2 separate regions of the Homo sapiens genome follow, and region 2 is linked to region 1. The links come from fine-mapping of genetic effects on gene expression. A gene starts in region 1. The other region holds a variant in brackets. All regions are shown on one strand. Distances are between the middles of the regions. Region 1 holds the start of LINC02386 (long intergenic non-protein coding RNA 2386). Region 2 overlaps LINC02386 (long intergenic non-protein coding RNA 2386).

Region 1 (4,391 bases):
AGCCATTCCATTTTCTCTTACATAGTTGGAATCAGTGCCTACTGAATCCTATCTGCAAATGTATAGAAGCAATATGCAAAAATTTGTGACAAAAATTGGCAAAGGGAGACCTTTTGCAGGTGAAAGACAGCTAACACCTAGTGGCTAGCAGAGGGCTGTGTGGGGGTGGGGGCACAGGTAAGAGCTGAAGCAGAGGTGTGGAGGGATTGGGTGGTGTCTTCAGCACTGATGGAAGATGTTGGGGTCTTCCTCCTTCTCTGCTTTCCAAAGTAGGAGTAGCCATTGAAGCAGTAGAGAGACTCAGGGGCTCTTTGGTTTTTTTCTACCATGGAGGTTTCTTCAGAGCTGGAGTGAGGGTGGAATTTATTAGCCTCCCTACAGGCTGTTCCAGGTGCCCCCACATCTGGTGCTGAGAATGAGTGTGAGAGGGCACCCAGGACCTCCGACCTCCTTATGCCATTACATTCACATCAAACTGTGCCACGTTATCATTTACTTCCAATTAAAATATTTTAATTTTCCTCCTGGGAGGTTAAGTTTTGTGGGTTTTACTTTTCTACAATCCCTCCCTATCATAAAACCATTTAAACTTTAAGTCTTAACATTGGAAGGTTCTCTAGTGATCATCTGCTCCAATCTCTTCATTTTATGCATTGGAGACCAAGACATGAAGAAATGGCTCATCCCAGTTCAGAGACCTAGACTCTAAATCACTCATACCACCTCTCTGAGTGACACTACTCATTGGATAACAGAACTTCAGCAATCTAGGTGCCACTTGAGATATCATGGGAGCAGAAAATACTTGTGCTCTTTTAAAGGGTAAAGAGTTATTTTGTAAATACATACCCTGTCATTTCTAGGAAATTGTGTGGGCTTAGGGACCTCACTGGCTCCTAATTAGGTGTTTTTTAAAAAGCCAGGCCATTGGGCAGGACTCAGTGGTTGCTCTTAGACTTGTAAATAACTTTTAGGCTGTCCCAAACTTTCCAGTTTTGTGATTATTCTACCCTCTGTTCATAGGTAATGATGCTATTGGAAGTTATGGGGAAGAAGAGAAAGAAGGGAATTAGCAGGATGGGGTGTACGGGAATAGAGATAAACGTTTATTGAGCACTAACTCTATTCTTGACATTGTGGTTAGTGTGTTACCCAATATTATCCCCATTTTACCCATTGAGGAAATCAAGGTTTAGAAACATTGAGTAATTTGCTCAAAGTCTCACAGCTAGCAAGTAAGAAGTCTGAGATTTCAAACTTCGGGCTTTCTGATTTCAGGGCCCAAGCTTGTCACCATTATACTCATGGGGGCAATGGTAGAGCCAGATTTCCAGGAAACTCCTCTTACATCCCACTGTCTGGGTAACTGGACTTGATGGGATTTTTGGCATCACAGTGGAAGAAAGGCCAGGAAAGAAGGACGGCAGTTTCCTTTGTTGGTCAGAACTTGCCTCATCTTGCCTACATCTTCTTGGGGCTGACAGATAGGAAGCCTTCCAGCAGGTGTGGCCTAAGGGTGTTGGGGCTTTACTTTTGTGCTGGTGCAGGCAGTTTCCAGGCTCAGATAAACACTCAGCTGTTTATTTATCCATCCAGCAAGCATTTCTTAAGACACCTCCTCAGTCAGTTCTTGAGCCAATAAGCAAGCATGGTCCCTGACCCAATAAATCTAGCTCAGATTCAGAGATGCATAACCTGATTCCAGCAAAGCTTTTTGTGGATTATCTGGGGCAGTGTTTGTAACCTTTATCTTTCCCACTTCTCAGCTGTCGCTTTACCAACAGGAGCCTCTACCTTTGCGGAGTTGGGAAAAGACAAACAGGTGGGCTGCTGGGCGCTTGGGCTGAAGCTGTGGGGAAGGATATGGAAACCAAAGCCTAACAAGAGATCTTATGAAAATCTGCTCTTTCCTCTCTCCCTGCAGTTCTGTTTCCTTAAGCTAGGCTTACAATCGAAGGGCCAGCTGTTCACTTTACAATCTATCCCAGCATCCTCAGCTCCAATAACTGCCAGTTGATGCTTGCCTGTCCCAGTGGAATTAATGGAAGCTGTCAACAGCCCGCCCCCGACCTCACTGGATATAACTGTGTCCTCGGCAGACGTGAGTTCCTCCTGCTTCTGAGACAGCCTCCTTCCTCTCTTAGGAAACCCTCTCATGGGCCATTTATTCGCGTCAGTGTCAACTTAAAAGCAAGAGGCAAGGCACAAAATCTAACTTAATTTACTTAAGCCAGAGTGAGGACAGCTGCCTGGAAGACCCTTGAGAGGGGGTGATTCAGAGGATGTCAGACCTGGGCATCTGGGGCTCATTGCAATTGCACCAATTGTACTCACTTTTGTTATATTTCCAAAAGACTCAATGAGCTTCTTAGGGGGCTCAGCACTGATCTCAGGTGGAAGGAATGGGGATGGATGGGAGGGGCTGGGATGGGGGGAATAGGGAGCAGGGAGTGGGTCCCTGTTTCCTTTCCCTAGGCTCTCTGTCACTTTTTTTCTCAGTAAGTGGGAGATTCATGTGCTCTATACCTCCACAGTCTGCTGTGAACCTGTTGCTGGCATGAATCTGTCCGCTGGAGTTTGTTCGGTTGGGGGCCATGAGACAGTTGTAAAGGGAGCAACCATTGTGAAATGGCATCTTTCAGAATGCAGGAGTGAGGTGCCGTCACAAACCACGGCTTCTGTGGACAGGGTGTCTAGGGGTGGCTTGGGAAGAAGGCCCAGGGATAGAAGGAGAGAACTGAGGCCCTCTTTCAGCTCAACTTCAGCCTGGAGAATTTAGATCATTGCTTTAGCTCTAAATCACCACTTCCACACTTGGATGATTTCAAGGGACCTTAAGTTCCCACTTGCCACAGGCTTTGGGACATGGAGCCTGCTTTCTAAAATAAATATTTTTGAGTTTTTTAAGATGTAAGTTCAAACCTGCTACTGAAAAGGATTGGTTAAAAGAGACAACTCCCACTCCACTGCCGTGGCTTTCCATCAGGGCCATGCTTGGCAGAACCTGGGAGTTGAAAGGGAAGAGATGATGATCCATGTCTTGAGTTCCTGCAGACTGGAAGCAAGTGGAGCTGGGCTTGGGGAGCAGAAGGAACTGTTCTGCTTCATGGAGAAGCAAGTGGTAGTGACGGAAGTACCTGTTTCAGTGACTGCACTTTGAAATTGGATGGAGACCCAAATCCTTAATTCAGGGCTTCCTTCTGGGCTGGTGCAATCTGTAATTTTGGCAGGAATGAGAAGGGCAGGCTGGAGTGAAAAAAAGTCAAAAGTGGGAGTGTAGTGGCTCACCCTGCTTCCAGCCCTCCCTGACCTGTCGTTTGCAGACCCCTACACATTTAGAGCCTGTGTATCAGTCAGGATCTCTCAGGACCACAGAGACCCTCTCACAGCGTTACCTTCAGCAGTTGGGATTTATCGTAAGGATATTTCTGAAACTAGGAGACCAACAAACCTCAGGGTTCCATAAACACTGAGGGCAGATTGGCCTCCAGAGCCTGGAGTAGCACTCCGGGTGTCCAGTGGTTCTGGGGATCTGGTCATTTCGCCAGCTCCAAATATTCACAGTGACACACCACTGGTTTGTAGACAGACCCAGCTTCTTCAGGTAGATGTTGTGGTCCTTGTGCCTTTTATGGTTGACCTTGTTCATACCTTCCTTATTTTTCAGAAGGAGGAGCATTGTTCATGTTCACCCTCCTATTGTGCCAGTGGTGCAGTAAGTTTTGAAGGTCTCGTAGCCAATTCCAGATTTTTTTTTTCTTTTCGACAACCTTAAAAAGTGGTGCTTTTTCTTTCCAGGGCTTTGATCCAGAGGCTTTGACAAGGCTACTGCTCATCCAACTCAGCCAGAAAGTAGGGTAAACTGAGCGCTAATATCTGAGACAACTTTTTCAGGGTGGTATCGAATGAAGACTGGATAGGTTCCAGAGAATCATTCTTCACATACTAAAGAGCTGAAAACAGAAGGAGCTCAACAACTCAGACTCCAGATCTTTCAGACAATGGCTCACAAGATTTCCCTTGCTTCTTGGGTTCCTCTCTAGCTCGCCATCCACTGGTGATCTTGTTGATGTATCTGTTTGGTTACTTCCTGACTCCCCACCGCCCCATATCCGTGGCCAGAAGAAAGCTCAGGAGCAAAGCTCAGGAGTACTGTCTGCCTTGTTTGTCACCAGTGTGACTAGCACAGTGTGTGACACAGCAGGCGAACAAAATGAACCAGTTGTGGAATAAATCTCTCACCTGCTTTCAACTCACCCCTAAGATCCCTGTCTATGAGCACTTTACCCTACTCTAGCAGGTGGTTTGGTGCCCTGTCCAGACCTGAGGTTTCAGATTCCTTCCCTTTGTTTATTTTTTTGTTTTTGTTTTTGTTTTTTTTTACATTGGTG
Region 2 (4,391 bases), 36 kb after region 1:
TTTTCAGAAGAGTTTGAGTAGGATTGGTATTAGTTCTTCATTAAATGTCTGGTAAAACTCAGCAGTAAAGTCATTGGGACCTAGGCTTTTTTTTGTTTGTTTGTTTGCTGGGAGACATTTTATTATGGCTTTGTTCTCATTATTTGTTACTGGTCTGTTCAGGTTTTGGATTTCTTCCTGGTTCAATCTGGTAGGTCATATGTATCTAGCAAGTGATCCATTTCTTCTAGATTTTCCATTTTATTGGCATATAGTTGCTCATAGTAGCCTCAAATGATCCTTTGATTTGTGTGACATTGGTTTTAATGTCTCCTTTCTCATCTCTGATTTTTTTGTTTTTTTTTTCTTAACTAGTCTGACTAAAGATTTGTCAATGTTGTTTACATTTCAAAAAAAAGCTTTTCTGTTTCGTTGATCTTTGTATCATTTTGTTTCAATTTTATTCATTTCTGTTCTGATCTTTATTATTTCTTTCCTTCTACCGATTATTGGTTTGGTATGCTCTTGCTTTCCTAGTTCTTTAGGATGCTTTGTTAGGTTGTTTACTTGAAGTTTTTCTTCTTTTTTTGATGTAGGCACTTATAGCTATAAAGTTCCCTCTTGGTACTGTTTTTGCTGTATCCCATAGGTTTTGGTATGTTGTGTTTCCATTATCATTTGTTTTAATACATTTTTCAATTCCCTTCTTAATTTCTTCATTGACCTACTAGTCATTCAGGAGCATATTATTTAATTTCCATGCATTTGTGTAGTTTCCAAAATTCTTCTCGTTATTGATTTCTAGTTTTATTACACTGTCATCAGATAATATGCTTGATATTATTTCAGTTTTTGAATGTTTTAACACTTTTTTATGATATAATATGTGGTCTATTTTTGAGAATGATCCATGTGCTGCGGAAAAGAAAATGTAATCTGTAGCTGTTTGATGAAATGTTTTGTAAATATATATTAGGCCCATTTGTTCTATAGTGCAGATTAAGTCCAGTATTTCTTTTTTGATTTTCTGTCTGGGAGACATGTCCAGTGCTGATGGTTGGGAGTTGAAGTCTCTCTCTAGCTATTATTTTACTGGGGTCTCTCTCTCTCTTTAGCTCAACCAATATCTGCTTTATATATCTGGATGCTCCAGTTGGGTGCATATGTGTTTACAATTGTTATATCCTCTTGCTGAGTTGACCCCTTTATCATTATATAGTGACTTTCTTTGCCTCTTCATGTAGTTTTTGTCTTGAAATCTATTTTGTCTTATATAGGTATAGCTACTCCTACTCTTTTTTGGTTTAATTGGCATGAAATACCTTTTTCCATCTCATTATTTTCAGTCTATGTGTATCTTTACAGGTGAAGTGTTTTTCTTGTAGGCAACATATTGTTGGGTCTTTTTTTTAATCCATTCAGCCACTTTATGTATTTTATTGAAGAGTTTAGTCCATTTACATCCAATGTTATTATTGATAAGTAAGGACCTACTCTTGTCATTCATTATGCTATTTGTTTTCTGTTTTGTGTGTGTGTGTGTGTGTGTGTGTGTGTGTGTGTGTGTAATCTTTTCTTCCTCCTTTCCTTCCTTCCTGTCTTCCTTTTAGTGAAGGTAATTTTCTGTGGTGGTATGTTTTAATTTCTTCCTTTTTATTATTTTTTATCTGTTGTTTTTTGATTTGAGGTTACCATGAGGCTTGCAAATACTCTTTTATAACTCATTATTTTAAACTGATGACAAGTTAACACTGATTTCATAAACAGACAAGCAAAAAGAAAACAAAATGCTTCACTTTAACTTCATCCTCTGCTTTTTAACTTATTGTTGTTTCTTTTCATATATTTGAAATTTTGTTTTTAATTTTTTACTTTTTTTTGATGAGGTTTCACTATGTTGCCCATGCTGGTCTCCAACTCCTGAACTCAAGCAATTCTCCTGTCTCAGCCTCTCAAAATGCTGGGATTACAGGTGTGAGCCACTGTGCATGGTTATATTTATATGCTATTTTATTATGTCTTGAAAAGTTGTCGTAGTTATTATTTTTATTGGTTCATCATTTAGTCTTTCTACTTAAGAGTAGCTTATACACAACAATTACAGTGTTATAATATTCTGTGTTTTTCTGTGTACTTACTATTATCAGTGAGTTTTGAATCTTCAGGTGATTTCTTGTTGCTTACTAATGTCCTTTTCTTTCAGATTGACAAACTCCCTTTAATATTTTTTGTAAGTCAGGATTGGTGTTGAGGAAATCCCTCAGCTTTTCTTTGTCTGGGAAAGTCATTATTTCTCCTTTATGTTTGAAGGATATTTTCACTGGATATGGTATTCTAGAGTAAAAGTGTTTTATCTTCAGCACTTTAAATATTCAATGCCACTCTCTTCTGGCCTGCAA[G/C]GTTTTCACTGAAAAATTTTCTGCCAGATGTGTTGAAGCTCCATTGTATGTTATTTATGTTATTTGTTTATTTTCTCTTCCTGCTTTTGGAATCCTTTCTTTATCCTTGATCTTTGGGAGTTTGATTATTGAATGCCTAGAGGTAGTCTTTGGGTTAAATCTGCTTGGTGTTTTATAGCCTTCTTGTACTGGGTTTGGGAAGTTCTCTGTTATTATCTCTTTGAATAAACTGTCTACCCTTATCTCTTTCTCTACCTCTTCTTTAAGGTCAATAACTCTTGGATTTGCCTCCCTTGCCTCCCTTGAGGCTATTTTTTACATCTTGTAGGTGTGCATCATTCCTTTTTATTCCTTTTTCGTTTGTCTCCTCTAACTGTATTTTCAAATAGACTGCCATCGAGCTCACCAATTCTTTCTTCTGCTTGATCAATTCTGCCATTAAGAGACTCTGATGCATTCTTCAGTATGTCAATTGCATTTTTCCACTCCATAATTTCTGCTTTATTCTTTTTTATTATTTCAATCTCTTTGTTAAAATTATCTGATAGGATTCTGAATTCCTTTTCTGTGTTATCTTGAATTTCTTTGAGTTTCCTCAAAACAGCTATTTCGAATTGTCTGAGAGGTTACATGTCTCTGTTTCTCCAGGATTTGTCTCTGGTGCCTTATTGAATTCATTTGGTAAGGCTGTGTTTTCTTTGGTCATGTTGATGTTTGTGGATATGTGTCAGTGTCTGGGCATTAAAGAGTTATGTATTTATTATAGTCTTTGCAATCTGGGCTTCTTTGTACTCATCCTTCTTGGGAAGGCTTTTCAGATATTCAAATGGATTTGGGTGCTGTGATCTCAGCTATATCTGCATTAGGAGGTATCTCAAGTCTAGTGTTGCCGTGCTTCTTGCAGACTCCTAGAGGTGTGGCCTTGGTGGACTTGGATAAGAGCCAGAAGAATTCTCTGGATTACCAGGCAGAGACTCTTGTTCTCTTCCCTTACTTTCTCCCAAACAAATGGAGTCTCTCTCTCTCTCTCTTTGTACTGAGCCACCTAGAGCTGGAGGAGAGGTGACACAAGCTCCCCTGTGGTCACCACAACTGGGACTGTTCTTGGTCAGACCCAAAACCAGCATAGCACTGAGTCTCACCCAAGGCCCACAGTAACCACTGCCTGGCTACCACTTATGTTTGATCAAGGCCCCAGGGCTCTACAATCAACAGATGGTGATTCCAGCCAGGTTTGTGTACTTCACTTCAGACCAGCAAGTTCCTCAGGGCCCCAGGTAAGTCCAGAGATGCCATCTAGAAGCCAGGGACTGGAGTAAAAATCTTAGAAATCTACCTGGTTCTCTATTCTACTTCTGCTAAGCTGGCACTCAAACCACAAGACAAAGGTCTTTTCCCTTTCCACAGGCAAAGGAGCCTCTTGCCACAGGCCACCACTAACAAAGAGCCACTGGGAGTACTGCCCAGCTACTGCTGATGTTCACTTAAGGCCCAAGGGCTCATTAGTCAGCTGGTGGTGAATGCTGCCAGATCTGGGACTAACCTTTCAAGACATTGGGCTCCCCTCTGGCCCAAGGCATGTCCAGAAATAACATCCGAGGCCCAAAGCCTGTAATCAGGGACCCAAGATCCTGCTTGGTGCTGTACCCTACTGTGGCCAACCTGACACCTAAGGTGTGAGACAAAGTCCCTTTTACTTTCCCTGTTTTCTCAACAGAATAAGTCTCTCACCATAGCCACCACAGCTGGAAATGTGTTGGGTCGCACCTGAAGCCAGCATGTCTTAGAGTCTTATGCAAAGCCTGCAGTATACTACCTGGGCATCACTGCGAATTATTTAGAGCCCCCAGGCTCTTTTGTCAGCAGATGATGAATTCTGCTAGGACTGGGTCCTTCCATTCAAGGCACTGGTTTCCTTTCTGGCCCAGTGTTTGTCTAGAAATGTCTGGGAGGTAGTGCCTGAACTGGGGGCCTCATGACTCTGACAGGTCCCTATCATCCTGTAGCTGAGTT

The links. PIP is the estimated chance that this variant, and not a neighbour inherited with it, causes the effect. A credible set is the group of variants that fine-mapping cannot tell apart.
Region 2: its variant is the best candidate, but not a certain one, in a credible set for the expression of LINC02386 in sun-exposed skin (GTEx, PIP 0.75).

The regions. Positions count from the first base shown.
Region 1 is chr12:30,294,328-30,298,718 of GRCh38, reverse strand. It overlaps LINC02386 (long intergenic non-protein coding RNA 2386), which reads left to right and starts at 2,012. Exons shown (of 5, transcript NR_183469.1): 1 at 2,012-2,101.
Region 2 is chr12:30,257,946-30,262,336 of GRCh38, reverse strand. The region is part of intron 2 of LINC02386 (long intergenic non-protein coding RNA 2386); the gene reads left to right. Among named protein-coding and RNA genes, the nearest start is that of LINC02386, 37 kb to the left of the region's middle. The variant G/C (reference allele first, on the strand shown) is at 2,379.